Linked DNA regions of Homo sapiens: all the other regions are linked to region 1. The links come from fine-mapping of genetic effects on gene expression. A gene starts in region 1. Each other region holds a variant in brackets. All regions are shown on one strand. Distances are from middle to middle.

Region 1 (4,067 bases):
TTCCAAACAAATGCGGGAAGGAAGGCATTATGAAGTTTTCAGATGTCATTAGCTATAACAAAGTTCAGAATTAATCATGACACCATGCAAAATGGGAAAAATTTGCAAGCAAGGAGAGGGTGGAGATGCCAGAACCCGTAAATTTATGCCAGCTGAGCACTGTGGGGGCACCTGGCAAATGGATTTACTATTTTGCCAACACCAGTAAAGTGTTACAAAATTGCAAACGGAATTATTTCTATGCAAACAATTGTTTTTAAAAAGGGTCCCTACATCGACTAATGCAATTCAGTTTTTTTCTGGGTAAGCACAAAGCCAGAAACTAAATGAAAAATATTAGAAATTATTTTTCTTGGAATCATGTTGAATATTAAAATTGAGATTTACTTTCCTCCCCAATTCCCTCTCTCTCCCATCAGTCTTTTCATGCACCAATGTCATTTTAGTTTTCGTGGTAAAAGAGGTGGTGAAAAAGGGGCAGGGGCATTTGAGAGAGTAGGCGAAGGGAGGCTGGGGATTCCAGAAAAGGAAAAGATGGGGAGTCGCTCAATTAAACTCTACCACCTTCATCTGTTAACAGGGATTCTTGCCTGTCTCGACCCACTTCCAGAGGCAATGCCATATTATTTGAGAAAGCTGGATATAAAATTTGAGCTCTGCTGTCCTTGTCCCAATCCCCCTCCCCAGGAGAAAAAATAAGCTGAACTGTACTCGTGACATTATGGGTTTTTCTGGAAAACAAGGATAAATAAGTTTTTTGAACATTTTTCTCCCCTGAAACTAAATCCGTAAGAGAGTTAAAAACCCGTGGAAAGCGAGTTAAGTCACTTTTCAAGTCTTTGTACTCAGGGGATTCTGTAAGACTCATGGAAGAATAATGGCGCAAACAGCAATATTTTAATGTTAGAACGGTCCTCTGAAAAGTCTGCCCGAAACGCTACAAAGATAATTGTGCAGTAACTTCTAAAAACTCTACTGGGACAGGAGGCAACAAAACTCCGGATCAGCGAGAGCTCTGTTTATCCGAGGGTGCTGAGCCTCAGGCCCCACGGAGATTCCCTTTTCGGCACTTGGAGGCCTGAACTCAGGTCTAACCTTTCGTGTGCGCGCTCTGATACTCAACCACCGTTCAGTCTCCGGAGGCTGTTACAACTGTCCCCATTCTACAGATGAAGTTGAGGCTACAGCTTAGTGTTCTTGGGGAGGGAGGGAGTTGGGGGGAGAGAGAGACGCTTTTCCTCATAACCTTAAACAAAAGTACTTAAACCTAAAGCAACTGAAAAATGATTTTCTTTCAACAACGGTGTTTCCTTTGGGGTCAAGTTCTTTGATCTCATCTACAAAACCAAGAAGCGGGACAAGTATTTTTCTGCAAATTAGAACGGGGCGTTCCCCTCCCCCATCACCCCAATTCCAGAGGACGTCAATCACAGTGGACGCAGCACCGCGAGCGGAAATGCGGAGAGCATCGGGGCTCCGCATGTGGGGCACAATGAAACAAGAGCAGCCCCGGCCAGAGGTCCAGTAAAGCGGAAAGACGGTCCCGCCCGCACACCCCTCCGGAAAACTGAAGCGTCTCCTCTGACCCCCAAGGTCAGAAAGATTTATTACTTCCTTCGAGAGGGCGCAGCCACAGACCCACTAGAGAGGGCGGGCAGGGTGTCGGAAGCCAGAGAACGGCGCTCCGCGTCCTCCCACCGCTCCAGGGCGCAGAGGTGTCCTCAGTGCCCGGAGAGGTTGGCAGTGTCGGCCCCGAGGGAAGCGTGGAGCGGACGGCCGACAGGGGATTTCTGCCCAAACTTCATCACCAACTCTTTCTGAGAGCAAAAACATGGGGCCGAGTCCGGCAGCTGCACGCAGAATCCAACTCTCTGGCAGCTCTCGGCACCGACGAGCTCCAGATCCCGCGTTCGCATCCCGGCGCTTTGCGCGCAGAGCTAAGCCTTCGGACCCGTGGACTGCAGCCCCCGCGCGTCGCGGTAAAGCGGGTCGCGTCTCCAGCCCCCGAGGCGCAGCGACGGTGGGAGCCGGCTCGGCGTTGGGGGCGGGGGCGGGGCCGGCGAAGGGGGAGGGCTGCGCGGCGGAGGGGAGGAGCCGCGGCGACAGACGGCGGCGCGCACCAACCGGGCGCCGGCTGGCAGGAGCCGCGCAGAGGCTGGTCCGAGCGCGTTGCGGGCGCCCGGCGTAAGGGGAGTCGGGTAGCAGCATCCTCCTGGGCGCCGCTTTCGCGCGGCGGCGGCGGCTGCGGCGGGGTCTTTCTTTGCTTAAATACCTCGTTGGCCAGAAGCGCTGGTACCGGGGGCGGGTTGGGTCGGGTCGGGCAGTGCTGCACACCTGGGTTTCCTTGCCTAGAGCTGTGTGTTCGGGGTCCTTTGGTCCAGTCGGAGGCTGCGGAGCGGCGGGGGTTGCCTGCGCTGTCCGCCCGGGCATCCTCCCGGTGATGGAAGCAGCCGCCGCCGCCGCTGCGGGGTCGCGCTGTGCCCCATCCACCGCTGCCAGAGAGGTGGGAAAATTCGCCGCACGGAGGCCGAAAGCGAGAGGGGCTGCGCCGCTATGCCGGGAGCTGAGTCCCATATAAGCCGCCCCCAGCCATCGCCCCCAGCCGGCTTCGTTCCCCTGAGCGAGACAGGAAGCTGCGGTCCCGAGAAAGCGGAGGAGACGTCGCTGGAGCCGGGAGGCGCCGGGTTCGGCGGAGCGCGGAGCGGGGCTCTGGGCCGCGTGAAAGTTTTTCTTCCCGAGCCGCAGGGCGCCCGCTGCCCGGAAACTGCCCAGGGATAAGTCGGCCGACTCCCCAGACCCCTCGAAGGTGCGGGGACCCCCAGCGGAAGCGAGAGGGAGCGAAATCGAGGAACGAGTGACAGCCGGACAGTCCGCCGGGCGGTGATCCGGGGCCGCTCCCGGGCGCGCCCTCGGCTCCAGGTGAGCGGAGGAACCGGGCAGAACCGAGGGTGGGCGTTACTTAGGAGGAGGAGGCTGGGAGGGAGATTGGGGCGCATCCGCTCACTCCGCTTCCCCTCGCAGGTCCTACCCGGAGCCGCTGCCATGGGAGAGCCAGCCTTGGGCGCTGGGGACCAGCCGCCGCGCCCGCCTCGGAGTCGCGGCCCGAGTCCCGGCGCCAGCAGCCAGCCCGCTGCGTCCCCTTCCCGGGCTGCAGGGCTGCCTCCGCCGCGCCGCCGGCCCGGATTGTGCCTGTGATGAGCCGCAGCCCGCAGCGAGCTCTGCCCCCGGGCGCGCTCCCTCGGCTGCTCCAGGCTGCGCCTGCAGCCGCGCCGCGTGCCCTGCTCCCGCAGTGGCCCCGGCGCCCAGGACGCCGCTGGCCCGCGTCCCCTCTCGGAATGAAGGTGTTCCGTAGGAAGGCGCTGGTGTTGTGCGCGGGCTATGCACTGCTGCTGGTGCTCACTATGCTCAACCTCCTGGACTACAAGTGGCACAAGGAGCCGCTGCAGCAGTGCAACCCCGATGGGCCGCTGGGTGCCGCAGCGGGGGCAGCCGGAGGCAGCTGGGGGCGCCCAGGGCCGCCTCCGGCCGGGCCGCCCCGTGCTCATGCCCGTTTGGACCTCCGCACTCCTTACCGCCCTCCCGCTGCCGCCGTCGGGGCGGCTCCTGCAGCCGCGGCAGGGATGGCGGGGGTTGCGGCCCCTCCAGGCAATGGCACTCGGGGCACCGGGGGCGTCGGGGACAAGCGGCAGCTGGTGTACGTGTTCACCACGTGGCGCTCTGGCTCGTCGTTCTTCGGCGAGCTATTCAACCAGAATCCCGAGGTGTTCTTTCTCTACGAGCCAGTGTGGCATGTATGGCAAAAACTGTATCCGGGGGACGCCGTTTCCCTGCAGGGGGCAGCGCGGGACATGCTGAGCGCTCTTTACCGCTGCGACCTCTCTGTCTTCCAGTTGTATAGCCCCGCGGGCAGCGGGGGGCGCAACCTCACCACGCTGGGCATCTTCGGCGCAGCCACCAACAAGGTGGTGTGCTCGTCACCACTCTGCCCCGCCTACCGCAAGGAGGTCGTGGGGTTGGTGGACGACCGCGTGTGCAAGAAGTGCCCGCCACAGCGCCTGGCGCGTTTC
Region 2 (4,067 bases), 540 kb after region 1:
TCTGTGAGTACATTAGGGCAGTCAATACTCACACACTGATTATCTGTGTTCATCAAAACTATTCAATATCTTGATATTTAAAACAGTTAAGCAGAGTGTGAACAGCAATCATTAGGAAAATGATCCATTGAATTAATTGCCAAGGGGGAAAGAGGGAGGTTGAAAATGATATTGATGGCAAATGTCTAAGGCAGAATGGGTATTTTTAATTCTGTTTTTCCTTTCCTATTTCATGGGTGGTGAGGTTAGTAACTGTGTTGTACAAAACAGTGCTACGAGGAAATAAAAGCAAGACAGACAAGTTGAATGTGAAGGTTTTATAAGTAGGATTAAGAAGTTTGGAGCTTGTTCTTTCATAATAGAGAGTCATGAAGGGTTTTAATAAGAGAGATGACACAATCTGAACTTTGGAAATAAAGCTCAGGCAGAAGAGCAGAGGGCAGAATGGACACATGGCTGGAGGCTTTCCCAATAATTTCAGGAAGAGATGAGTTGTACCAGGACAGGAAGAGGCCCGGATTCATGCTCCCAAACTCTTACATGTTCACTGTCCTGGGTTCTAATAGACCAATGACCACTGTGCTTTGTACTTCACAAATATACCTCACTGGTTTTCATCTTCTCTGTGTGCCACAAGCCCTTAGCACAGTGATGCGACATAGTAAGCCTTTAATGAGTGAACGAATAAGAGAGAACATCAAGGAAGATATAGCAGAGGTGACAGCACCCCAGAGATATTTGAGATGGAAAATTGGTGGGTGTTGGTGCTTGAGAGGCAGCAAGGAATGACTCTGGATTTTGATCTATTGTACAACATGTGACTATATTTAGTAGCAATGTATTGTACACTTGAAAATTGCTGAGAGAGCAGATTTTAAGTGTTCTAAGCACAATGACAAAAGCATGCGAGGTAATACATATATTAATAAGCCTGATTTAGCTATTCTGCAAGATATGCATATTTCAAAAAATTATGCTGTGTACATAATATATACAGTTCTTGTCAATTAAAAAGTGTTTTTAAAGAAGTTACTGCAAAATCCAAAAAAAGAAAGAAAATGCCATATGAATTGACATGACAATTGGCCAGATCCCATTTTATCAGGCATAGAATCAATTTTATTATTCTAGCTGAATAGGTCCTATTAATCATGATAGGTAAAATGGCAGAGATCTGCTTTTTACTAGCATGCAGCTGTTAACATTTGCCACAACTTTTAGACGTTGCAGTTGGTGGGAGGGAACAAGCAAACACTTCTGCTAAGTAATCTCTTTCTCCTTTTTGGATAGAGTTAAGACACTGCATCTACCCAAAACAAAAAAGTTACAATGGGGTTTGGTTAGCAACATTTTCCTTTGGCTAGGATCTTGTGGAATAAAAGTAACATTTTTTTTTAACTAGAACATTCTATCATGGCCTCTCTATTGTTAACTTTAGACTCTGTAGCTGTTCATTTGTATCATCAAGCTCTGAAGATGACTTGCAGCCCATCTCCACTTCCATGGAGGTTTCCTAGGCCCAGGAAAAGGAAGGTAAGGCCCTTACCCCACCTCCCCACTTATGGAGCCCCTCTGCCCTATGGGGAAGACTCTACACCTGTCTAACGAAAGCTTTGAGCTTTTAAGAGGAAAGGCTTTTAATTGAATATCCAGTTTTGTTCATAACTGCTCTGACATTCCCACAATTCCTTTTGAACAAAGAACTGAACTCTGTTTCATAAACGATGTCCCACACAAAAGAGAAAACTGTTACTTTGCACATTCTTGTCTACCCTGTGAAGAAATGGAATAGTTTTGAAATAAAGCTAGACAGTGTGTCCTACAAGAGGGAGTATTTTGCTGGGAACACAAATGAGTCAAATAGGTGAGTCAGGAAATTAGCCACCCACTCTGCTGCTGAGCTTGGAGCTTTTAAAAAACTCATTTAATTAGCTCCCTGGCAGGGCTCAATCTTACACGCAATGTCCAAGACTCTCTGCAGCACCTCC[G/A]CAGGAGAGAATCTTTGGGACAGCTGTGGACATGCACATACCAGCTCTGCCCACACCTTGCAAGGCTGGTAAAGATAACCTAGGTCCAAGGCAGGACTAAAAGTCAATGCCCATGTAAATGAGAGTTCTTGGGACCACAAGAGGAAAACACTCTGGACATCGTGTGGATAGGAAGGGGAAAAGATGCAATCCGATTTCTTAAACCTTTGATTTTATCAGACAATTTGGTCATTTTGTCTTTAACTTACTTTAGTTCCACTCATCTTTTAGTGGCAGATTTTCATGCTTCACTTGTGGCTTGGAGTTCCTTCTCCTCTACATACCCTCTTCTTACATGATGTTGTAGCTAGAGAAAAATTCACTTTGTCTTTCAAATTGATAATAAAAGATACAAGCACATATGATCTTATGCTCAAGGAGATGAACATGCACATGTACACACACACACACACACACACACACACACAAACACACCCCTACCTCTAGGTAAGCATAATAGAGGAATGTGATAACTGAGAAATGCCACTGAATCCTTGCAGATCTCTGAGAAAATAATTTCAGCCATCAAATGGTAAGGGTCTTTGAGCGGAATGAGTGAGGAGCCAGTGGTGTGGACTGCACTCTGAGAAGCTTTTGATAAAGGATGAAGAGAGAAAAAGCCATAACTTATGAGGTCTAAGTGAGGCTTTCTCTTAGACATCTAATTTATAGGTTGACAAGAATAAGCCAGAGGAAAGAGAGGCTGAAGACAGAGAGAAAGGATGAGAAAACTGCTGGAGCAAGGTCTGGAGAAGGCAGAAGAAAACTGAAGGGCAGAAGGGGAATGTGTCTTTTCAGGAAAGTAAGATCATCTGCTGAGAGTCAGGAGAGAAACACATGAGTTAGAGGCTACAGGAAGGTTGAAAATGTGCAGAATATCTTGGAGGCAGGTAATGCAAGTTTCATGAAAAACTGTTAGGGTCAAACATAGGATAATTCTCAGTCTGTAAGAGAAAAACTGTAACACTAAAATGATATAATATTTTGATTTTTTCATCATACCAAGGGTCTTTTCCCCTACAACTCTATTATAGCATCAAAACTAATCCTTTTTCATCTCAAAGATGATAACCACACCTAGTGATAAAAATACAGATCATGACTACATGACTCCATGAGTATCTCAATGTGTTTACTCTTAGATGTTTGACAATTTTTTTTAAACTGCTGTCTTTTCAGCTGACCACTTTCTTGATGCCCTTTCAGAACTTCCAAGTCTTTAGGGTGATTTAGTGACAGCCCCTTCCCTAGAATCTCCATTAGCAGCTCTATGACCCCTATTTTCTAAGTGTTTTACAAGGAATTTAAATTTCAAATGATATTTTAATGTGGCAGCTCTCAGCAACCTAGCACAAGATCTGCCTAGGTCGAAGGACAACAACATACAATAGTTCCTACCCCTGTCCTCCTACGTTGTCATTCAGCCTTGTCAAAATGCTGGCTCTCCCTTGGAGAGTGCTCTCTATGGTTTTCTGTGCAAATCACTATGTATGACACTTGTCCATGACACACAGAGAATCAAAAACATCTGAAGATTTTGCAGCTGAATCGGTGTCAGGCCTGACAGGTGTAGAACCTTGGTATTCTCATAAACGAGGTAGCATTTTTCCATTTCCAAAAAATGATTATTGTGAAAATGTATTTTCTTTTTCTAAGAAGGAGGATGGAGGAGGAAATTCTCCTGTAACTTTTCCCACTTTCCTGAAAAATTGTATACGGTGAGATCTGAAGGAGAGGCTTTCAAAAAAGTTGTGGTATCTGGGTGCAGGCTGAAATATGGGAATTATTTTGAGAATTATTAAATTCTCAGTGAAGACTTAGCAGCAAAATTGATGCATGGATTGATTTTGCCAGTCAAGCTCTGCCAGTCATAATCCTAGAATACAAGTGAAAAGACTAACCCTTCTGAGTTACATGAGAGAAACAATGCCAGATCTACAAAGCTAATGACTAGTCATTCAATTTGTTTAGGTCATTCTAAATTTTAAGTTACACAAAACATCATGAGGAATTTAGCCCTAAAACTTTGCAATTTTATTT
Region 3 (4,067 bases), 42 kb after region 1:
GTAGGAGATTCCCCATTGCTGTTGTTTTCTTCAGATAATTCTAAAAGATTGCAAAGACCTGAGGAGACTTTTAGAAAAATGTTTATAGACTGATTTGATTTGACAATCAAACTGCTTCTTGAGTTTCTGAAATGGTGAGACTTGTCCTTCCCTGCAAGACTCTTTTCATTTTTACAAGGTAGAGCTGAGAATGTATTCTCATAATTTAGCTGAAGGAAACAACAGACAGCCCTTTTTTGAAAAAGTCCGAGTTCTTTGTCCCTGGTTTCCCAACAGATTTGCTGAATTCTCCACTTAACTTTGCTTGTGGAAACAGAAATTCTTGACTGTGTCCTGGTACTAGGGGTCACCCACGGATCCCACGAACAGGATTTGGAAGCTCACCTTCTCATTGGCTGTGGAATCAGGAGGGTTTCTCTTCATAGAACCTGGATTTCATATCTATGTCACACACTCTGCCATTTGGCTTTTTAATTCCTTCTGAGTCGCCGGATGCTGCTGTCCGTCCTCACCCCTGTGTTTCTCTATAGGATACCTAACCTCTCCCCGGGGGACTTCGGTCTCTCACGACCGCCCCATGATTTCCTGCTGATGGTGTCCTTGGGAGGGAAACTGCTCTAAGGGACAAGCTGTTTTGCAGAATTACTTTAACCTCTCAGTCACTGTGTTACCCTCTCGGTGGGCCCCAGGCCTGTGGCTTTCCGGGCTCCCAGACATTCCTGTCCTCCAAGGGCTCTGCTTCTCAGCTGCATTTCCTGGGGTTCTTTGAGCTTCCAGTGTGGACCTCCCCGCCCACAGCTCAGCTCTATAACCTTACATCTTCTGGGAAGATTTGCTTTTTAATTATTCAGAACGACATCTTCAGGACTCCTTAGAAGCTGCCTTGTCTGACAGTGCTTCATGATTCACTCCTCAGTTTCTTTTGTAATTCCTGTGTGTCCAGTAGTTCATACACATTTCATATTTATGACAAAGCTATGGTTTTCTGGCAAATTTAGTTTACAAAGCAGCTCACACACACTGTCTCCACTGACCCTCATAAGACAGGTGTGAAGCAGGCTGAGCAGAGCTGTGGCTTAGGTGAGGGTCCAGATTCTAAATATAGTATATAAGGTGAAAATGGCACATGTCCAGAATTACCTTGGAAAATACTGAAATCATCTCTAAAATGTAGCATCCTTGGTTAGGGTATACAACTCTGTGTGGTCATATGTATATATAATTGTATATGTATATATATATATATATATTTTTTTTTTTGGAGACAGAGTTTCGCTCTTGTCACCCAGGCTGGAGTGCAGTGGCGTGATATTGGCTCACTGCAACCTCTACCTCTTGGATTCAAATGATTCTCCTGCCTCAGCTTCTCAAGTAGCTGGGATTACAGGTGCCCACCACCACCCCCAGCTAATTTTTGTATTTTTAGTAGAGATGGGGTTTCATCATATTGATCAGGCTGATCTTGATCTCCTGACCTTGAGTGATCCACCTGCCTTGGCCTCCCAAAGTGTTGGGATTACAGGCGTGAGCCACTGCACCCAGCCATATATTGTTAAATATAGCAGAGACTCAAAGTACTTATGTACTTTGATTATACCATTTTAATTGTTAAAATTATTATTCTTATTGCTTAACCCATGTAGTTGGAATTGTCTAAGAAGGGCATGATGTGCATCTTCTAGGTAACAACCCCTTTTTGAAGGAGGAACCTGGAGTGTGGATGGCTTAAGGGACCAGTGCACAGCTCTGCAATGTGGAGTGGAGCCTTGAACTCATGCCTTCTGACTCTGATCCTGGTATTCTTTTTTTTTCTTCTCTTGCTGCCTTACTGTGGCTGAAGGGGATTTAACTATTATTTTCAAACATTCCTTTTACTTAACCATTCATTGTCCATTTCCTTACTTTCCAAGTTTTATATAGGGAAATTTTCCCACTAAAATGCTGCCAATTTTTCAAAATAAGTCCAGTGTTAGACTTCTGTCCTGAATGCCTCTAAATAGTAAACTGTCTATGAGCTTTAGGAAATGTTGTGTTGGTGAAAACCCATCTCTACTAAAAATACAAAATATTAGTCGGGCGTGGTGGCA[T/C]GTGCCTGTAGTCCCAGCTACTCGGGAGGTTGAAGCCAGAGAATCGCTTGAACCTGGGAGGTGGAGGTTGCAGTGAGTAGAGATCGCGCCACTGCATTCCAGCCTGGAAGACAGAGCGAAACTCCATCTCAAAAAAAAAAAAAAAAAAAAAAAAAAAAGAAAAAGAAAAAAAAAGAAAGAAAAGGAAATGTGTTGTGGGGGAAAAGTCATTGTATTTGTCAAAATATAACTTTAGTTTTGCTTATGAACTATTTGGCAGTTTGAAAGCTTCTTGAAATTCATTCCCTTGGGTTTCAAAAATCCACCATTCTTCTGCTAATCTGTAGTATCACCTGGCTATCCAAATAGCTGGGGGCATAAACCCATCTGAACACTTGGGGACTGGGGCAATGAAGGGACTGTCCTCTTGTCTTTGGAAATCCTTTTCTGCATCTGTGCCTGAGAGAGCAGCAACTGTCTTCATTTCTGGGTGAACTGAGTCTGGATCTGGTGAGACTTAACCTAAAAGTTAAAGTACCTTGAACAGGGTAGGAGGGGCACAAGACTCACTGTTCAAATGAACATTCACTTTCCCATTCAGAAAAAGAATTTATTGAGCACCTACTGTGTACCCAGCACTGTGCTTGGTGATAGGGAAGACAGAAATTTAAAACCTGGCTTGGCTAACTTCAAAACAATATTGTTGAAAAGGGGAGAAAAAGTTTTGGGAGTTGACATAGGAATCAATTAGAAAATGATGCAAGTCGCTATAATGACCACCATCACCGTAGCTAAATGCAAAGTCCGAGTGGAACTGGAATTTAGAAAAATGAGACAGAGGAAGATGAGATATGTTAGGGAAGTCCTCCTGGGTCTTTGAAGGCTGAAGGCTATAGAGTATAATGTCTGAAAGGATGGCCTTGATATACAGTAAGACTTGAGTATGAATCACACGCCTCATTTTAGAAGTTGTGTGACATTTGTAAGTCACTTCATCTTTCTGAGCTTCAGTTTCTCAGTATCTAAAAGAGGGGAAAGACACTACAGGGTTGCTGTAAAGATTAAGTAGGAAAGCATGGATTGATGGAGGTGCCAAGTTAGTTCAATGGGAGAAAATATGGTCTTTTCAACAAATGGTGCTGTGTATTTTATTGTGTGTAAATTATTCCTAAATAAAAAAAGACAGCGTGGGAAAGTACACAGTACATGGTACCTCCTCATTAATAGTGGCTGTGGGTAATACAGGCATGAACAACAACACTAGGCATTTTAGTTTTGACCTCCTACCCCATTAAGCCAGTGGCTCTGTCAACCATCTCTTTTGCCTGTCAGGGTCCTATGGGACTCACACAGGACTCTGGCCAGATGCTGTGATGTTCTCATTCTCTTACCCCCAATGATGCACTTTGCCCAGACAGTCTTTCTGGATAATTGTTCAGGAATCAAATCTTTCTCTCTCATCTAGATATACATGCACATAATATGGATGTTCCTTCCTTCCTTCCTTCTCTCCCTCCCTTCTTCCTGTTTATCTATCATCTTTATCCTATCTCATTCCAAAGCCAGTTTAATGTGGCTTATAAAAATATGCCAGCCTTTAGACAAATTAGTATAGGAAACAAATATAAAACCAAAACTACAAAGAAAGAGACATCAGTTGGTCCTGAACCCTTGCTATAGGCAGGCAACGGATTTGGCTCTGAGCTTCCTTGCCATAGCAACAAAAAAAGGAAATGTGATTAGTTGCTAAACAGACCACAGAGCAGATTCGCTTTATCCCAAAGTAGCATCTTGAACTGGTATCTGTTATTCAGAGCTCCAGGTTTCCAGTTTGTTTGCCTGAGTGGTGGATTAGTGTAAGGAGAGAAGAAACTGGAGGTTTTTTTGTGTTTGGCTCAGTTTTCCTGGCAGGGACACACTAAGAGTTTCCTTCTGGAAGTGAATGGTGCTGGGGTTCTCCCTCCAGCAGAGACAGCATTATTTGTATTCTGAGCCTCTGTT
Region 4 (4,067 bases), 110 kb after region 1:
ATCGTGGAAGAAAAATGCCTGTGAACAGCCAGTAAAAGTGCAGAAGGAAGCATGATGTAGAGGCACCTGCTTTACTAAGTATTAAAACACTAAGAGCCACCGTAATAAATCGATATGATATAGGCACAGGGATAGCTCTATAGATTAGAGCACAGATGGACAATTCAGAAACAGATCCCAAACTGTTATATTATAGTAATAAAACAGCACCAGACTGCCCATGACAAGAGTTCTCTGAGATATTCAGCCTTCTGCTTGAATAAAGGGAACCTGAATATCCAAAATCCTGATTTTACCTGGGATATTAATGGTTTCCTTATTTTTTTAAGCCCCAAAATATCTATAATATAACTTTATTACAGATCTCAAACTTATATGAAAATTCTCTATATTAAAATGTGCTGTTTCAATTCAGTAGAGGAAGAATGGTTTATTTAATAAATCATGTGAGTGCAACAGACTATTCATCTGGAGGAAAATTAAAAATGATTCATGTCTAGTATCATTTATAAAAATAAATTCCAAATAGATGAAAGGAATGAGACTTGTAGGGTCTGTTTAACCTGGTGGTCGTCATATCTTGAAAGTCAGCTTTGACTCCCGCGTCTCAAGTTATCCTGTCCCAAATCCTCACAGGCAGAAAGAAGGGAAGCTGAAGCTGGCAGGGCAACAAGTGTGGCCAGTCAGAACTGCTTTGCTGTGAGGAGCTTGGAAGTGAAGGGCTTCAACATGAAGGAGACAAAGAAACTGGATATTGAGTAGGCGACTGGCGGTGTCTGCTAAAGAAAGCCAGTTGCAGAGAGAGAGAAAGAAAGTCTCTATTGGTATATTTTGGGCATTGGCTGGGATCAATTGCTGTTACTACGAGACAGCATGGCTTACACGTGCTTCGATTTGCTTTGGCTCCTAGCCAGCCCTTTACTGTGGTACCTGCAGCTGCCCCTGGAAGGGCGGGAACACAAACTTCTATCTTAGGGACAGTGGGGAAAAAAAGTCCAAATATATTGTCTAGGAATCTCCCCAACTTTCTAAGTACAGCTCTTTGGCAGGAAAGAAAAACCATAATTACAGCTGCCTCTTCATACTTAACGTATTTTCAAAAAGGAGATGAAAACTAGAAAACGAAGCAGAAAGGCCAACTGCTTCCTTCACCTACTCTTTTTTTTATTATTTTTTATTTTTTTATTATTATACTTTAAGTTTTAGGGTACATGTGCACAATGTGAAGGTTAGTTACATACGTATACATGTGCCATGCTGGTGCGCTGCACCCACTAACTCGTCATCTAGCATTAGGTATATCTCCCAATGCTATCCCTGCCCCCTCCCCCCACCCCACAACAGTCCCCAGAGTGTGATGTTCCCCTTCCTGTGTTCATGTGTTCTCATTGTTCAATTCCCACCTATGAGTGAGAACATGCAGTGTTTGGTTTTTTGTCCTTGCGATAGTTTGCTGAGAATGATGGTTTCCAGTTTCATCCATGTCCCTACAAAGGACATGAACTCTTCATGTTGTGTGGCTGCATAGTATTCCATGGTGTATATGTGCCACATTTTCTTAATCCAGTCTATCATTGTTGGACATTTGGGTTGGTTCCAAGTCTTTGCTATTGTGAATAGTGCCGCAATAAACATACGTGTGCATGTGTCTTTATAGCAGCATGATTTATAGTCCTTTGGGTATATACCCAGTAATGGGATGGCTGGGTCAAATGGTATTTCTAGTTCTAGATCCCTGAGGAATCGCCACACTGACTTCCACAATGGTTGAACTAGTTTACAGTCCCACCAACAGTGTAAAAGTGTTCCGATTTCTCCACATCCTCTCCAGCGCCTGTTGTTTCCTGACTTTTTAATGATTGCCATTCTAACTGTCTTCACCTACTCTTCTGCCGCACAGCCATCCTCCGCACGCCCGCTGCTTCTCTCAGGTGACTCCTGGGCCTGACTGTCCCACAGGCCAGACACCGGAAGCACAGGGAATTGGA[A/C]GTATCTCAGGCTATCCCCGGCCTCAGCTTCTCCCTTCCCAGCACTCCCTCCCTGAGGGTCCTCCTCCACAGGCTGCTGGGAAATGAATCCGAACCCCAGCACCCGTCTCTGGTAACAGGGCTAAGGTCCCTTCACCTACTCTTAAGAGACCTTAGCCCTGTTACCAGAGACGGGTGCTGGGGTTCGGACTCATTTCCCAGCAGCCTGTGGAGGAGGACCCTCAGGGAGGGAGTGCTGGGAAGGGAGAAGCTGAGGCCGGGGATAGCCTGAGATACGTCCAATTCCCTGTGCTTCCGGTGTCTGGCCTGTGGGACAGTCAGGCCCAGGAGTCACCTGAGAGAAGCAGCGGGCGTGCGGAGGATGGCTGTGCGGCAGGGCGCAGGAGGCCTGTTCACTGCCCCTAGGGCCTGGTGCTGGCTGGGGATGCTGGGAGAAGAGCTGGCCTGAGCTGTGGCCCCCCGAGGGAGGAAGTGGCACTTTTCCAAGCTGGCTAGGGAGTTGGGGGACATTGAGCTCCCACCGCAAAGCATCAAGCATCGCTGCAGCCATGATACCCATCGGAAGGAGTAAAAGGTGCTGGGGGGAAGGGGCAGCCATAAGAACACCCTGTCTTAGAATCTAGATAACCCTGCCCCCAGCGAGAGAGACATTTAAAGGCGTGGTAAGTGAGGACAAAGACAAAGCATATCTAGACCCTTCAAGGCTGCTGTTTGGAGTTCTCTGACAGCCAGCTCTGAGTGGGGCTGTGTCCCTGGGTAGTGACAGAGGCATGGCACTAACAGCACAGCCCCATCTCTCTGGCTCCTGCCAACCACTCCCGTTGGCTGAGCTTCCCCAACATGACCTCCTCAGGGTGGCTGCCCCTCAGGAAGCGTGTTTGAAGGAAGAAGTGTGGCTTTGGGGTCAGACAGCCCTGGGCTTGAATCATAACTGGCTCACTCATTCATGAGCTACCTGACCTTGGGCAGGTGGCAAAGCACTTGAGGCTTAGTTTCCTTGTTGTTGATATAGAAATGACAAGCCCTCAGAGAGCTGTCAGAATGATTACACAAAATAATGAAATGGGCCAGGTGTGGTGGCTCAGGCCTGTAATCCCAGCACTTTGTGAGACGGAGGCAGGCAAATCGCTTGAGGTCAGGAGTTTGAGATCAACCTGTCCAATATGGCAAAACTCTGTCTCTACTAAAAATACAAAAATTAGCCAGGTGTGGTGGTGCATGCTTGTAATCCCAGCTACTTGGGAGGCTGAGGTGGGAGGATCACCTGAGCCTGGTAAGTGGAGCCTGCCGTGACTTGAGATGGCACCACTGCATTCCAGTCTGGGTGACAGAGTGAGACTCCATCTCAAAAAAAAAAAAAGAAAAAAAAGAAAAGAAAAGATAATGAAACAGCCCTGGGCACAGAGTTTGGCACAAAGTCGGCCTTGCATCCATGTGAATTTTCTTCATTCTCTGAGGAAGCAAGGGCAGCTCCCAGGAGCCCATGTGGTCCACTTCCCTTCAGTCAGGCTTACCTGGCCCAACCTCAGGCCAGTGGGTGAGTATGGCTTGGTGAGCTGTCTTTTAATTTACTCTTTCATTACACTGGTGTCTGCTACTTTAACTGTTTTACTGTTTATTCCTTTTCCCAGAATAGTGCCTGGCACATAGTAGGTGCTCAATCAGTATTGCTGAATGAATGAATTCATTAGTTTCTTTTATCCTTAGACTACTTTGAGTAAAACCCTAAAAAAATCCATAATTTTCACCCTGAACAGTTACTGTCACCTGGACAGTCATCCCCTTTTTTCAGTTTAAAGTTTTTCACAAAGAACTGCCACATTCTAAAGCCAGTGCCAGGCTTCAGAACTCACATCACCTTATATATGTATTATCACCTTATATATGTATTATCACCTTATATATGTATTATCACCTTATATATGTATTAATACGCATATAAAGACTGCATCAAAAAGATATATACTTAGATGTAAAATCAGACAAAAATTCTGTATTCTTTAGAAATGACTGGCTACTGGAAATTTACTTCATTGGCCACTTGTTGGTATTTCTTGGCAATCATTACAACTTGCTCTG
Region 5 (4,067 bases), 57 kb after region 1:
AAAACCAATCCAATTCACATAGTTCAAGAGACTGCAAAGAAGAGGCTCCTTAAGGGGTGTGGACAGGATTAAGAGAACGAGCAGGGTTGCTGAGGCACCCAGAGACTAGCAACAGTGGCAGTCATTACCACCCCAGGCCTGAAGGGATGAAGAACATTGCAAAGTGCTTTACTCCAGTCTGGTGGGAGCTGAAGTCAGGGAGAGATGTAGTCGCTACCAGAAAACATGCTGCAGGGCAGGGTGGGAGCAGGAAGGCAACATCTTCTCTTCTTTTTCCTCCTGCCTCACCTTGAGGGGTCGGTCTTGGCCAAACCCAACCAAGAGCCAGCTGGCAGTGGAGCCAGGTTGATGTGGTCCAGTGGAGGCAGTCTCCAAGGCTGCACAGAGAGGGGCAAGAATGGGCCTGGGGAGAGGCACAAACCAACCACACCCTCAGGTGCATTTTTGAGATGACAAGCAAGAATGAATTTGGAAAGTTTATAGGCTTCTTTTGTAGCTTCAGCCTTACTAGGACTTACATGATATAAAGTGCCTTTCCTACGTCGAGAATAGGGGGTCTGAAGGGTTTTCAGTCATACATTATGTCTTTAAGGACAGAAATTTTTTTTGAGGAAACTTGCAATTAGCTTGGGAGACTATGAGGACATAAGAATATGTGGAGTTTTGAAGGAAAGTTTTAGGGCAGAGTCTGGCATTTGTGCTAGTAAGAGGAAGAGACCCAGCGAGAGACTGGGGACAAAGCTTTAAGTCAGAGAGAGGTCAGAGAAGAAGGTGCCTGCAGTGGAACATGAAATCCTCAGTGTAAATTCACCAATACCCAAAAAGAGTCCTTTAAATCTGGCCATACACTGAAAATCTGTCTGCTAACAAAGGGTTCATGATATCCAAGCAAATATGGTATATGACCCAGAAATAGCTATTTTTTCAATTCAGCAATTTAAAATAGCAAAATCTTGAAATTTTATTGCCCAGGATATACAAAAGTACTCATACACACTTGTCTGCATACCCACCAACACAAAATGTCAATGTGGACACACACTCCCGCTTGGGCCTCCTCTCTCTCTCCGGCTCCATTTTCTCCGCCGCCGGGGGCCGGGGTCTCCTGTGGGGGGCCCAGCCGGTATCCCAGGTCTCCCTTCAGTGCCGGGGTGAACCCCCGGGGGAGCCGAGAGCCGGGGGCAGACGGGCGGGGGTTGGGGCGGAGGGAGCAGCGGCCCCAGCGAGTTTGTGGGGAGAAGTAACCAAGCGGGGGGAGGGGCTGAGCAGGGAGGGGGCCTCAGGGCCCCCCCCCAGCTATGGACTAACGGCTACTGGGGCCGCCTCCTCCAGGCGGGGCCCGGGGGGGGCCTGGGATTGGTGAGTGGGGAGCCTGGGGGCCCTGGCGAGCCTCCTGGTGGCGGAGACCCCGGTGGGGGTAGCGGGGGGTTCCCGGGAGGCCGAGGGAAGCAAGACATCGGGGACATTCTGCAGCAGATAATGACCATCACCGACCAGAGCCTGGACGAGGCCCAGGCCAAGAAACACGCCCTAAACTGCCACCGAATGAAGCCTGCTCTCTTTAGCGTCCTGTGTGAAATCAAGGAGAAAACCGGCCTCAGCATTCGGAGCTCCCAGGAGGAGGAGCCGGTGGACCCACAGCTGATGCGCTTGGACAACATGCTTCTGGCAGAG[G/A]GTGTGGCTGGGCCCGAGAAAGGGGGCGGCTCAGCAGCAGCAGCTGCAGCCGCTGCAGCCTCTGGTGGTGGCGTGTCCCCTGACAACTCCATCGAACACTCGGACTATCGCAGCAAACTTGCCCAGATCCGTCACATATACCACTCGGAACTGGAGAAGTATGAGCAGGCATGTAATGAGTTCACGACCCATGTCATGAACCTGCTGAGGGAGCAGAGCCGCACCAGGCCCGTGGCCCCCAAAGAGATGGAACGCATGGTGAGCATCATCCATCGAAAGTTCAGCGCCATCCAGATGCAGCTGAAGCAGAGCACCTGCGAGGCTATGATGATGCTGCGCTCCCGTTTCCTGGATGCCAGACGAAAGCGCCGTAACTTCAGCAGACAGGCCACTGAGGTCCTAAATGAGTATTTCTACTCCCACCTGAGTAACCCATATCCTAGTGAGGAGGCCAAGGAGGAGCTTGCCAAGAAGTGTGGCATCACCGTGTCTCAGGTCTCCAACCGGTTTGGCAACAAGAAGATTCGCTATAAGAAAAACATCGGAAAGTTCCAAGAGGAGGCAAACATCTATGCTGTCAAGACAGCCGTGTCAGTCACCCAGGGGGGCCACAGCAGCACCAGCTCCCCGACACCCCCTTCCTCTGCAGGCTCTGGCGGCTCTTTCAATATCTCAGGATCTGGAGACATGTTTCTGGGGATGCCTGGGCTCAACGGAGATTCCTATTCTGCTTCCCAGGTGGCATCACTCCGACGCTCGATGGGGCCAGGGGGCTATGGGGATAACCTCGGGGGAGGCCAGATGTACAGCCCACGGGAAATGAGGGCAAATGGCAGCTGGCAAGAGGCTGTGACCCCCTCTTCAGTGACATCCCCAACGGAGGGACCAGGGAGTGTTCACTCTGATACCTCCAACTGATCTTGCCCCTCAGGGTCACAGGGGTGGGGGCTCTCACAAGGCGACTCTTGAAGAGGACGCAGGCTTCCAGAGGACAAACCCCAATACAGGAGAAGCACAAGACAGAGAAGGGCCAATGGGGTCATCCGCTCCCTAATGAGACTGTCTGTGCTGGGGGTGCTAATTACATGGCAGGAAGAATGGGGCCCCTAAGGGGAGTGTGGGGTCTGTCTCTCCCTTTTTTCCAACTTTTTCCTCTCTCGCTTTCTTTCTTACACAGAAACATGCACATACCCAGAAACCTATTTTCTCAGACCCCTTTTTCTCCTCTGTCTTTCTCTCTCCCTCTCCCACACCTCACACACACATACTCCCACTTGCAACTATTCTGTTTCTCTCCTGGGCTCCCCCACTTTCCCTTCCCCACCCCACTTGTAGGCTCTGGAATCTGGAGACGCCAGCCCTGCCCAATCAGAGATGCCAAAAATGGGGACATGACTTCTGGACAGAGGACATGGGACACGCCCCCATGCATCCCCACCCCTGCCCCTCCAGACAGCTTACTTACCTCATACGCAGCTCATCTTAAACCAATAGAATCGCTTGGTGGACGAGAGTGTCTGACTCAGATATCTACCTCGGAGGGAGTTTCTGCTACTTTAGGGAATTATTGACTGGGCTTTGGGGTTGAACTTTTTTTTTTTTTTTTTTTTAAAGAAAGAAAAAGAAACCCTGGGATCCATCTGTTTTTGTTGTTGTTGTTGTTTTTGTTGTTGTTGTTGTTGGTGGTGGTGGTTCTTAATTTTTAATTTAGTTTGGGGAAGTAGCTTGTTTTTTTTTTTTAAATAAATATGTTGATTTCTTGTCTTTTTTTTATTTCTTACTTTCCCATATTAGGGGTGATAGCCAAAGGGGTTCTGGTAAGAGAAAGGGGGACAAACAGAACTGGTAAAGAGGCCCCCCTGGCTCCAGGCCTGTCCATCAGGAAGTAAATTTTACAGGGCACCAAGCTTTGCCCCCTAAAATCCATTAGGTGTTCTTTGTTCATGCAGGCAGGTTTCTGCCGCATTTGATGTGGAGGCAGTGAAGGGCTTGCCCTGCTGGCCTCTCATCCCCCTTCTTCCCACAACCCTTGGGCAGGGCTGGACTCAGTAATTTTGAGGAAATTGAAGATGCCATCTTCCCCTGTGAGTGACATGTCTTTAATTTTTTAAAAAACTCTATTTGAAAATTGGAGGGGGAAGAATGGGAAGGGAGTTATTGCCAAATATGTTAATTATGGGTTGGGGTGCTTGTATATGTATCTTCCTCAATTTCCGCATAAATGAGGTATCTTTTTGTCACACCAAAATCAAGGGGTAGGGAGAGGGAGGAGGTTGCAAAAAGCCAGATGTGGGGGAAAAGTAACATCAACACTGTCCCATCCTCAGCCCTGAACCCTACCATCTGATCCCCTCAGACATTCTCAGGATTTTACAAGACTGTCAGAGTGGGGA
Region 6 (4,067 bases), 36 kb after region 1:
CATTTTTCTAAAAATTGAGTTTTTTCTAGAATGCGATTACTGAATCAAATATAATACATGTTTATAGTTTTGATAGATGTCATCCAACAGCTTTCCAAAAAGTCTTCACCAATTTACAATCCCTCTAACAGAATGGCCTAGAGTTCAGTCCTGCAGCCCTTTCAATGACTTTATAGGCATTTAACATTTCTGCTTAAAATTGGCAAAGTGGTTTTGATTTCCTGCAACAGAACTCTGCTCAAGATACCGTGCTATGATCTTATGATTCCTTTGCTTAAAACACTTCTGTGACTACCAAACACAGATCAAACTAAAGCATTATATGCTTACCTTGAGCTCCATCTTTACTTAAGGATCCACCACAGCTGCTCTTGCCTCTGCCATCAAGAATGACTCAGCCGCCTGCTGGGTATGAGGGCTCACGCCTGTAATCCCAGCACTTTGGGAGGTTGAGGCAGGCGAATCACTTGAGCCCAGGAGTTCAAGACCAGCCTGGGCAACATGGTGAAACCCTGTCTCTACAAAAATACAAAAATTAGCCAGGCATGGTGGCACATGCTTATAGTCCCAGCTAGTTAGGAGGCCGAGGTAGGAGGATTGCTTGAGCCTGGGAGGTCGAGGTTGCAGTGAGCTATGACGGTGCTGCAGCTCTCCAGCCTGGGTGATGGAGTGAGACCCGGTTTAAAAAAAAAGAGAAAAGAATCCCTCAGCCTGCCTTTCAGGTTTTCCAGAATTTGGCTCCATTCCCCGTTAGTCAGTATGGTTCCCCTGGTTCCTCACATCTATTCCATGCTCCAAATGAATGTGTCTCCCACTGATCTGCTGTATCTGCAATGTGGAACTATCTGGTACCCACCCAGATATACTTGTATCTTCAGGTCTCTGCCTCTTCCTGTCCTAGGCTCAATTGCCTCTCTCAGCCCCAAACTTTTCCTTTTTTTCTTTTTTCCTCTTTTTTTTTTTTTTTTTTGAGATGGGGTCTCGCTCTGTTGCCCAGGCTGGAGTACAGTGGATCACTGTAGCCTCTGCCTTCTGGGTTCAAGTGATTCTCCTGCCTCAGCCTCCTGAGTAGCTGGGATTACAGGTGTCCACCACCAGGCCTGGCTAATTTTTTGTATTTTTTAGTAGAGACGGGGTTTCACCATGTTGGCTAGGCTGGTCTCGAATGCCTGACCTCAGGTGATCCACTCACCTTGGCCTCCCAAAGTGTTGGGATTACAGGTGTGAGCCACCGCACCCGACCACCCCCAACATTTTCTTATCTGTGCACACCAAGCTCAGTACAGCCCCACTCCTTTGAAGGCTGCCCCGGGGATGCCAGCTCACATTTCTCTACTTTTGTGTGTGCTGTGCTCTGCTGCACACTGTCCCACTCGCTACTGGATCTTAGCACTTGCTTGTAATAGAATGTAAAGCTATTATTTGATAATTATTTAACATATGTGTACATTTTGTCCCAATTTAGAATGTAAGGCCCTTATGTGAAAGGTACCATATCTCGTTTTCCCTTTGTAGTCTTAAATGTTTAAAACAAGAGAAAAGAAAGGATATTTATTAAATACCTGCCATGGATTAAGTGCTTTTTTAACCATGACCTTATTTAATATTCACAACAATCCTGGAAAGATATTTTCATATTTCAGAGATATTAAACAACTTTGCCCTGAGAAATCCCCAAAGCTGAAATTCAGAATTGACTCAGTCCAGTGCCATAGTGCTTCTTTAATGTGATGTCTGGCCAGTTGCCCTCTAGGACTTTATATACCAGAGTGGCAGAGGTGGTGGACACTTACTATGGGTAATTAACTAATGAAAAGTGAAAGTATGCCTTATTTGCCTAGAAAGATATTTCAGGACTCCCAATGTATTTACTCTGTATGCTTTTATTTTCCTTCAGATATTAAAAAACTTATTTTGAGATCATTTATGATTTACAGAGGAGTTACAAAAATAGTGCGGGGTTCCCATATACTCTTTACCAAGCTTCCTCTAGCATTAAAATCTTAAATAACTACAGTATAATTATGAAAACTAAGAGATGAACACTGGTATAATACTATTAACTAAACTATAGGCTTTATTAGAATTTTCCCAGTTTTTGTTTTTTTTACTAAGTGTCTATTTCTATTTCAAAATCCAATGCATCATACTCAGTCACTCTCACCACTTCTATTTAACACAGGACTGGAAGTCCTACAGCAATTAGGCAAGCTAGAACAACTAGGCAAGAAAAAGAAATGAAAGGCATTCAAATTGGAAAGGAAGAAGTAAAATTATCTCTGTTCACAGATGACGTAAACTTACAGGTAGAAAATTCTAAAGATTGCACAAGTAAACTGTTAAGTAATAAATGAAT[C/T]GTGCAAACTTGCAGGTTACAAAATCACCACACCAAGAAAACAGCTGCATTTTTATAGACTAGCAATGAACGATCTGAAAGGACCGTTTACATTAACATCAAAGAGAATAAAATAGTAGGAATACACTTAACCAAGAGGGTAAAAGATTTGAACACTAAAAACTACAAAACATTGCTGAAAGAAATCAAAGAAGATGTAAATAAATGGAAAGATATCCCATGTTAATTAATTGGAAGACTTAATATTGTTAAGATGCCCATACTACCCAAAGTGATCTATGCATTCAAAACAATCCCTATCAAAATCTCAATGGCACTTTCTTTACAGAAATAAAAAAAATTCCAAAATTTATATAGAACCACAAAAGACCATGAGTAGCGAAGTCAATCTTGAAAAAGAACAATAAAGCTGGAGGTATCAGCTTTTGGAAATATTTCCTGATACTTTAAAATCAGGAAATACTCCTTATGCCACGCACAAAATTTTGAAATCATGAAATACTTCTTACACCCTGCACAAAAGTTAACTCAAAATGGATTGAAGACTTAAACATAAGAGCTAAAACTATAAAACTCTTAGAAGAAAACACACGAGAAAAGCTTAGTGACTGGATTTAGCAATGATTTCTTGGATATTATGCCAAAAAATAGATAAATTGGATTTCATCAAAATTAATTTTTTGTGCATCAAAGGATACTATCTAGAAGATAAAGGCAACCTACAAAATGGGAGAAAACTTTTGTAAATCATATACTGGTAAGAGATTAATATCCAGGATATTTAAAGAACTCCAAAAACTTAGTAAAAACCACCACAACAAAGCAGTTCAATTAAACATGAGCAAATGACTTGATACTGATATTTCTTCAAGGGAGATATACAAATGGCCAAGAAGTACATGAAAAAACACTCAACATCAGAAATCATTAGGGAAATGCAAATTGAAACCTCAATGAGGTACCACATCACGCCTCTTAGGATGGCTATTATCCTCAAAACAGAAAACAAGTGTTGGTGAGAATATGGAGAAATTAGAACCCTTGCGTATTGCCTTAGGGAGTATAAAATGGTGCAGTCACTGTGGAAGACAATATGGCAGTCCCTAAAAAAAGTGAAATGTAAAACTACCAGATGATCCAGCAATTCCACTTTTATGTATATACCCCAAAGAATCAAAAGCAGAGACTTGGTCAGACATTTGTACTGTAAAGTCCATAGCAACATTATTCACAATAGCCAAAAGGTGGTGGAAGAAGCTCAAATGCCTATTAATGGATGAATGGATAAACAAAATGTGGCATATGCATACAATGGAATATTATACAACCTTAAGGAATGAAGTTTTTATGCATGCTGCAACATGGATGAACCTTGAAAACATTATGCAAAGTGAAATAAGCCAGACACAAAAGGATAAATGTTACGTGATCCCACTTATATGAAGTATCTAGAATAGTCAAGTTCATAGAGGAATGAAAGTAGACTGGTGGTTACTAGGAGCTGGATGGAGGGGACAATGGGGAGTTATTGTTCAAAGGGCATGAACATTTCAGTTCAGAAGGATAGAAAAATTCTGGAGGTAGATGGTGATGGTTGCATAACGATGTGAATGTACTTAATATCATTGCATTGTACACCTAAAAAGGATTAAGATGGTAAGTTTTATGTTATGTATATTTTGCCAGAATAAAATAAAATAGCCATAAGTTC
Region 7 (4,067 bases), 52 kb after region 1:
TTCATTTGAAATATAAATATTTCCATGTGTATTGAAATAGTCACAGAGGCTGTATCAGTCAGTGACTTTGTGGGGTTGTTTGATGGGATCTAGTCTCTACCCCTGCTCAGAAACATTGCTGGCTCCCCGGTATCTATGTAATCCACTCTGCACCATGTAGCCTGGCAGGCAGGGCCTTCTGGGAACTGGCCCCACTGTCTTCTCACTGGTCTCCTCCTAATTTCTCCATGCTGCCCCAGACGTCAATGTATCCAGCTCTTCTGGAGTCCATGTGCTCTCTGGAACATGCAGCTCACTCTCCCCATCTATTACCATCATGCCTTTCTCCCCAGTGCCACCTTAGAAGAGTCTACTCACTGGGCTGGGTTCTGAGGCCATCTCCTACCATCTTCTGAGGCTATCTTCCTTGAGCCTCCCAACTGATTTTTTTCCTCCCTTAATATCCTTAATGCAGAAACCAGCCCCTGTCTTGATAAGATGACATTACATATCAGGAGTTGGAAAAAGAGAGGTGGAATTTAGCAATACGACAGCTCAGGAAGGTTTTACTGGACAAACTCTGGGACTTCTTTCAAATATATGTTATCAACAACCCCTTCACCTATTTTTTATTTTTAGGTCTAACGTTCACCTTTCCCTCTCATATTGAATCTCATGAGATCTTCCCTGAGAGTTGTGAGGGCCTCCCTGCTGCTGACCCACGAGGTCCTCCCTCACAAGTCTCGTGTGTTCAGGAACTGGCTGATGAACGCTTGCCTCCTTCTTCCTGCCCCGCAGACCTTCATAAACCACAAGGCTTTTTAAAAAAATTCTGATGCCTGTAGGTTTAAGCTTTACACCATCCTATAGCTTTGTCTGTGTACAATTCTAGCATACTGCCAGCCTTAGAATTTTCGGTCAGGTCCCCCTATAGATTGTATACTTCTTGGCAGTTCCTTCCCTTGTTCATTGGGTTCACAGATTCTACTCCATGCAGAGTACTTTGTGCTTTGTAGGTGCTTAATAAACGTGGTGAGTGACAACCCATGATATCTGAACTTACTGAGAAAACATTCCAGAGGGAGGTAAATGAGGATGAAAGGAGGCTGTTGGCAGAGGTGAGGAACTAGGGGCTCTGCAGACCAGCTTCCATGATGCCGCCATGTGGCCTGAGATTGGCCTGGAATCAGCTGCACTATCCCTCTTCACATAAGGCTACAGACTTTGGGGAAAGAGAATCCTTCTCCCTGCTTTACCTCTATACAAGTTCAGGCAGCTGTGTATGTGTGTGTGTATGTGTGTGTGTGTGTAATATTGGAACAGGCAGCACAGATGAGGGCTTGGCAGTGAGAGAAACTGTAGCTTTGACCTCTTACTACAAAGTGTGATGAAGAAGGCTTGAATTTTCAAAGAATTCAACTGTGTCTAATACCAGGTCTGTGGTATAACGTTCTTCCTTGGCTGGGTGCCAAAATGTAACATAAATGCTACACCCAGAGCAAAGGGGTAAAAGAGACCCACTAGTGTTTCCAGGGTTAAATTCTCCCTCCTTCACAGAGCCTTCCAGATTCACACAGTCCACTCAAGTCTCTCCTTTGTAGAAGATCCTACAGCATTTAATACTGGATGCTGCTCAGTTTAGCCCTCAATGATAGTGTCTTGCTATTTTTGGTTAGTTTCTTTAAAAATATAACTTCTGTCTTCCATTTACTTAAATCTCTTCCACGGCTTCTTTGCTTCTTGTTACATGAAGCAGTGCTGAACACAGAGGAGGAACTCAGTAACTGTTAATTGTTTTGCTCTCTAATTAGGCCCACGATAGAGTAGATACTATTGGGTGCTGGTTTTTAGGGGTGTAGGAAAGGAATCTGGGGAGTCATCTTCAAAGATCAGATGCACAAATCTTAACAAGCTGCCTCTCTCTAGTGGCCTCAGGGACTTGAAGCAAGATCAACTGACTTAAAGAAATAAACCACAAGTAGTTAAGAAACACAAAAGTTCAAATTGCATCCGGTGTAGCTCTGTGAGAAAATTTCTGCAGCAGAAGGAAGTCTGTTATTCTTGACCTGAACTTTAGTATTCTGCAGTAA[T/C]GTGGGGCTGCAAAAATGCTCCTAATCTCTGACAAAGTTAGGTTCTTATCCATATATCATAAGTGAAATGAGAGGAATTGACTGATAACAGAGAAAAAATTTCCCACTTGGCACATACAGACAGTGTATGTATATGTGTATATATACATAGATACTTAAATCAAAGTAATTGGTTAATGTAATGGAAATTTAATCTCAGTTTTAAGTGGTGTTTCTTCTTTATTTGATGTGCATTATTTTAAAAACACAGCAGAGACATAGCCTTTAACCACCTCCCCCATGCCTCTGACATTATTCATACTGAAGTTTTCAAGTAGCAGACTTGGAAAGTGCTTTTTAACTACAGCTCATATCATTAGTGTTTCTGCTGTATAAGCAGAAAAAATTGGGATGCAGCTTAGCAAAAGGCTTCAGGACAACATAAAATACAAAGGGTAATAGATCTGTTTCTCAAACAGTTTTCCTGTGTAATGCGCATCCTAATGATTTCTTTTTAATTAAAATATTTTCACAAGTCTCAGAATGAGTAACCTAAGACTATTTTGTTGGGATAATCTGTATTTCCTGAGATGTGTTAACTTCAGGGTCACTGGTCTTTATTCAGTTCTTGCTCTGCCAGGCCACAGGCTGCCTCATTCTCTCCTTTGCCCTCACAGCTTGGTATCAGCTCCTAATTTTGCATCTGGGCTCTAAACTGGACTTTCCAGCTCCCTGATGGACATTTCAGAAATGTTCTATTGATGTTTCTAACGCAACAAGCCTCATGATATTATCCTTGTGTTAACATCATTGTGACATCCTCCACACACCCAAGTCAACTTGGACTTATTTTTCTGTCTCCTACAAGCAATGGCTGCTAAGTCCTGTTGATTCTGGCTTTGAAATGTCTAGAGAATACCCTCTCATGTAGTCACTTCTATTTTTGTTGCCCTAGTTCAGGCCGTACTCTCTCTTGCTTGCCTGGACCATGACAAGTAGCTGTCTAGTTGGTCTCATGGGCTGCTATCGATTTCCTCTCAAGAGTACCCTTGAAGTTGCCCCAGAGTGCTCTTCCTAAAGAATGACTTGGTGATGTCCCTTTCCTACTGAAAAAACTTGTGGTAAGTCCCAACTGCCTACTGAATCTGTTTCCAACTTTACTCTTCAGCCTCATTTTCTGCAACTCCCTGTCATCTCCCCATGCTGAACCCCAAGAGACAACTCACGATTGCTCGATGAGATGTCCAATTTCATTCCTTTGTGCTGTTGCTTGGGTTGTTTAATGCCTAGAAACTTTAGCAAGACAACATGCAAATATTCTGCAGCTTCTCTGTGCCCCCTCACACCTGCCTGCTCCAAGCGTCATTCTTCCTTTGCAGTTAAAAAAAAATCCGTTTTGGCAGGCTTTATGCAGAATTTGTTTACATTTCTATCTCTCTTACACATGAAACTTGAACTGCTAGACAACAGAGATAATGCAATTTATATCTTTGTTTCTTTAAAGACTCAAGTTGGTGATAGATGCTTATTAAGTGCCCAGTGAATTCTTGTTGAATAAATGAATTGTTGCCTTCTTTGTGAATCTTTATCCAGTTCTCTGAAGCAAACATTATTTTGTATTTATCTTTAAGTTTTTTCTCTTTGTATTTGGTTTCCAGCAGATTTCCATGATGTGTGTTGGCACGTTTTTCTTTCTGTTTATCTTCATGGGGATTGAAGGGCTTCTTGAATCTGTGGCTTGACGTTTTTTTGTCAGCTTTGAAAAATTCTTGGTCATTATCACATATTGCTTTGCCTCCTGTCTTTCCCTCCTCTTTTGGACTCTAATTCCATATATGTTAAATTTTTCTACTAGGTGCCATAGGTCTCCTATATTTTTTTCTATCTTTTTTCTCTGTGCTTCATTCTGAGTAATTTCCATTGTTTTATCTTCCAAATTGCTAGTCCCTTTTCCAGCTGTGTCTAATCTTCTGTTAAGTCTATTTATTGAGTTCTTAGTTTGTAATATCAGTTTAGATT

Evidence for each region. PIP is the estimated chance that this variant, and not a neighbour inherited with it, causes the effect.
Region 2: its variant is fine-mapped to the expression of CHST2 in tibial nerve (GTEx, PIP above 0.99).
Region 3: its variant is fine-mapped to the expression of CHST2 in whole blood (TOPMed, PIP above 0.99).
Region 4: its variant is fine-mapped to the expression of CHST2 in whole blood (TOPMed, PIP above 0.99).
Region 5: its variant is fine-mapped to the expression of CHST2 in whole blood (TOPMed, PIP above 0.99).
Region 6: its variant is fine-mapped to the expression of CHST2 in whole blood (TOPMed, PIP above 0.99).
Region 7: its variant is fine-mapped to the expression of CHST2 in whole blood (TOPMed, PIP above 0.99).

What each region holds. Positions count from the first base shown.
Region 1 is chr3:143,117,623-143,121,689 of GRCh38, forward strand. CHST2 (carbohydrate sulfotransferase 2) reads left to right here and starts at 2,149. Exons shown (of 2, transcript NM_004267.5): 1 at 2,149-2,919; 2 at 3,022-4,067. The coding sequence starts at 3,195. RefSeq lists enhancers at 1,205-1,706, 1,382-1,511, 1,707-2,206, 2,492-2,541, 2,865-3,506 and silencers at 1,972-2,261, 2,752-2,801, 2,832-2,881, 2,932-3,011, 3,072-3,271 and 1 more.
Region 2 is chr3:143,653,258-143,657,324 of GRCh38, forward strand. All of the region lies in intron 5 of SLC9A9 (solute carrier family 9 member A9), which reads right to left. It overlaps LOC102724120 (a long non-coding RNA gene), which reads left to right. Exons shown (of 3, transcript XR_001740940.2): 2 at 1,439-1,533. Among named protein-coding and RNA genes, the nearest start is that of SLC9A9, 190 kb to the right of the region's middle. The variant G/A (reference allele first, on the strand shown) is at 1,989.
Region 3 is chr3:143,159,953-143,164,019 of GRCh38, forward strand. No RefSeq gene overlaps it. Among named protein-coding and RNA genes, the nearest start is that of CHST2, 42 kb to the left of the region's middle. The variant T/C (reference allele first, on the strand shown) is at 2,088.
Region 4 is chr3:143,226,197-143,230,263 of GRCh38, forward strand. No RefSeq gene overlaps it. Among named protein-coding and RNA genes, the nearest start is that of CHST2, 110 kb to the left of the region's middle. RefSeq lists an enhancer at 2,026-2,526. The variant A/C (reference allele first, on the strand shown) is at 1,989.
Region 5 is chr3:143,175,028-143,179,094 of GRCh38, forward strand. It overlaps the pseudogene PBX2P1. Among named protein-coding and RNA genes, the nearest start is that of CHST2, 57 kb to the left of the region's middle. The variant G/A (reference allele first, on the strand shown) is at 1,675.
Region 6 is chr3:143,153,634-143,157,700 of GRCh38, forward strand. No RefSeq gene overlaps it. Among named protein-coding and RNA genes, the nearest start is that of CHST2, 36 kb to the left of the region's middle. The variant C/T (reference allele first, on the strand shown) is at 2,357.
Region 7 is chr3:143,169,481-143,173,547 of GRCh38, forward strand. No RefSeq gene overlaps it. Among named protein-coding and RNA genes, the nearest start is that of CHST2, 52 kb to the left of the region's middle. RefSeq lists an enhancer at 1,697-1,836. The variant T/C (reference allele first, on the strand shown) is at 2,070.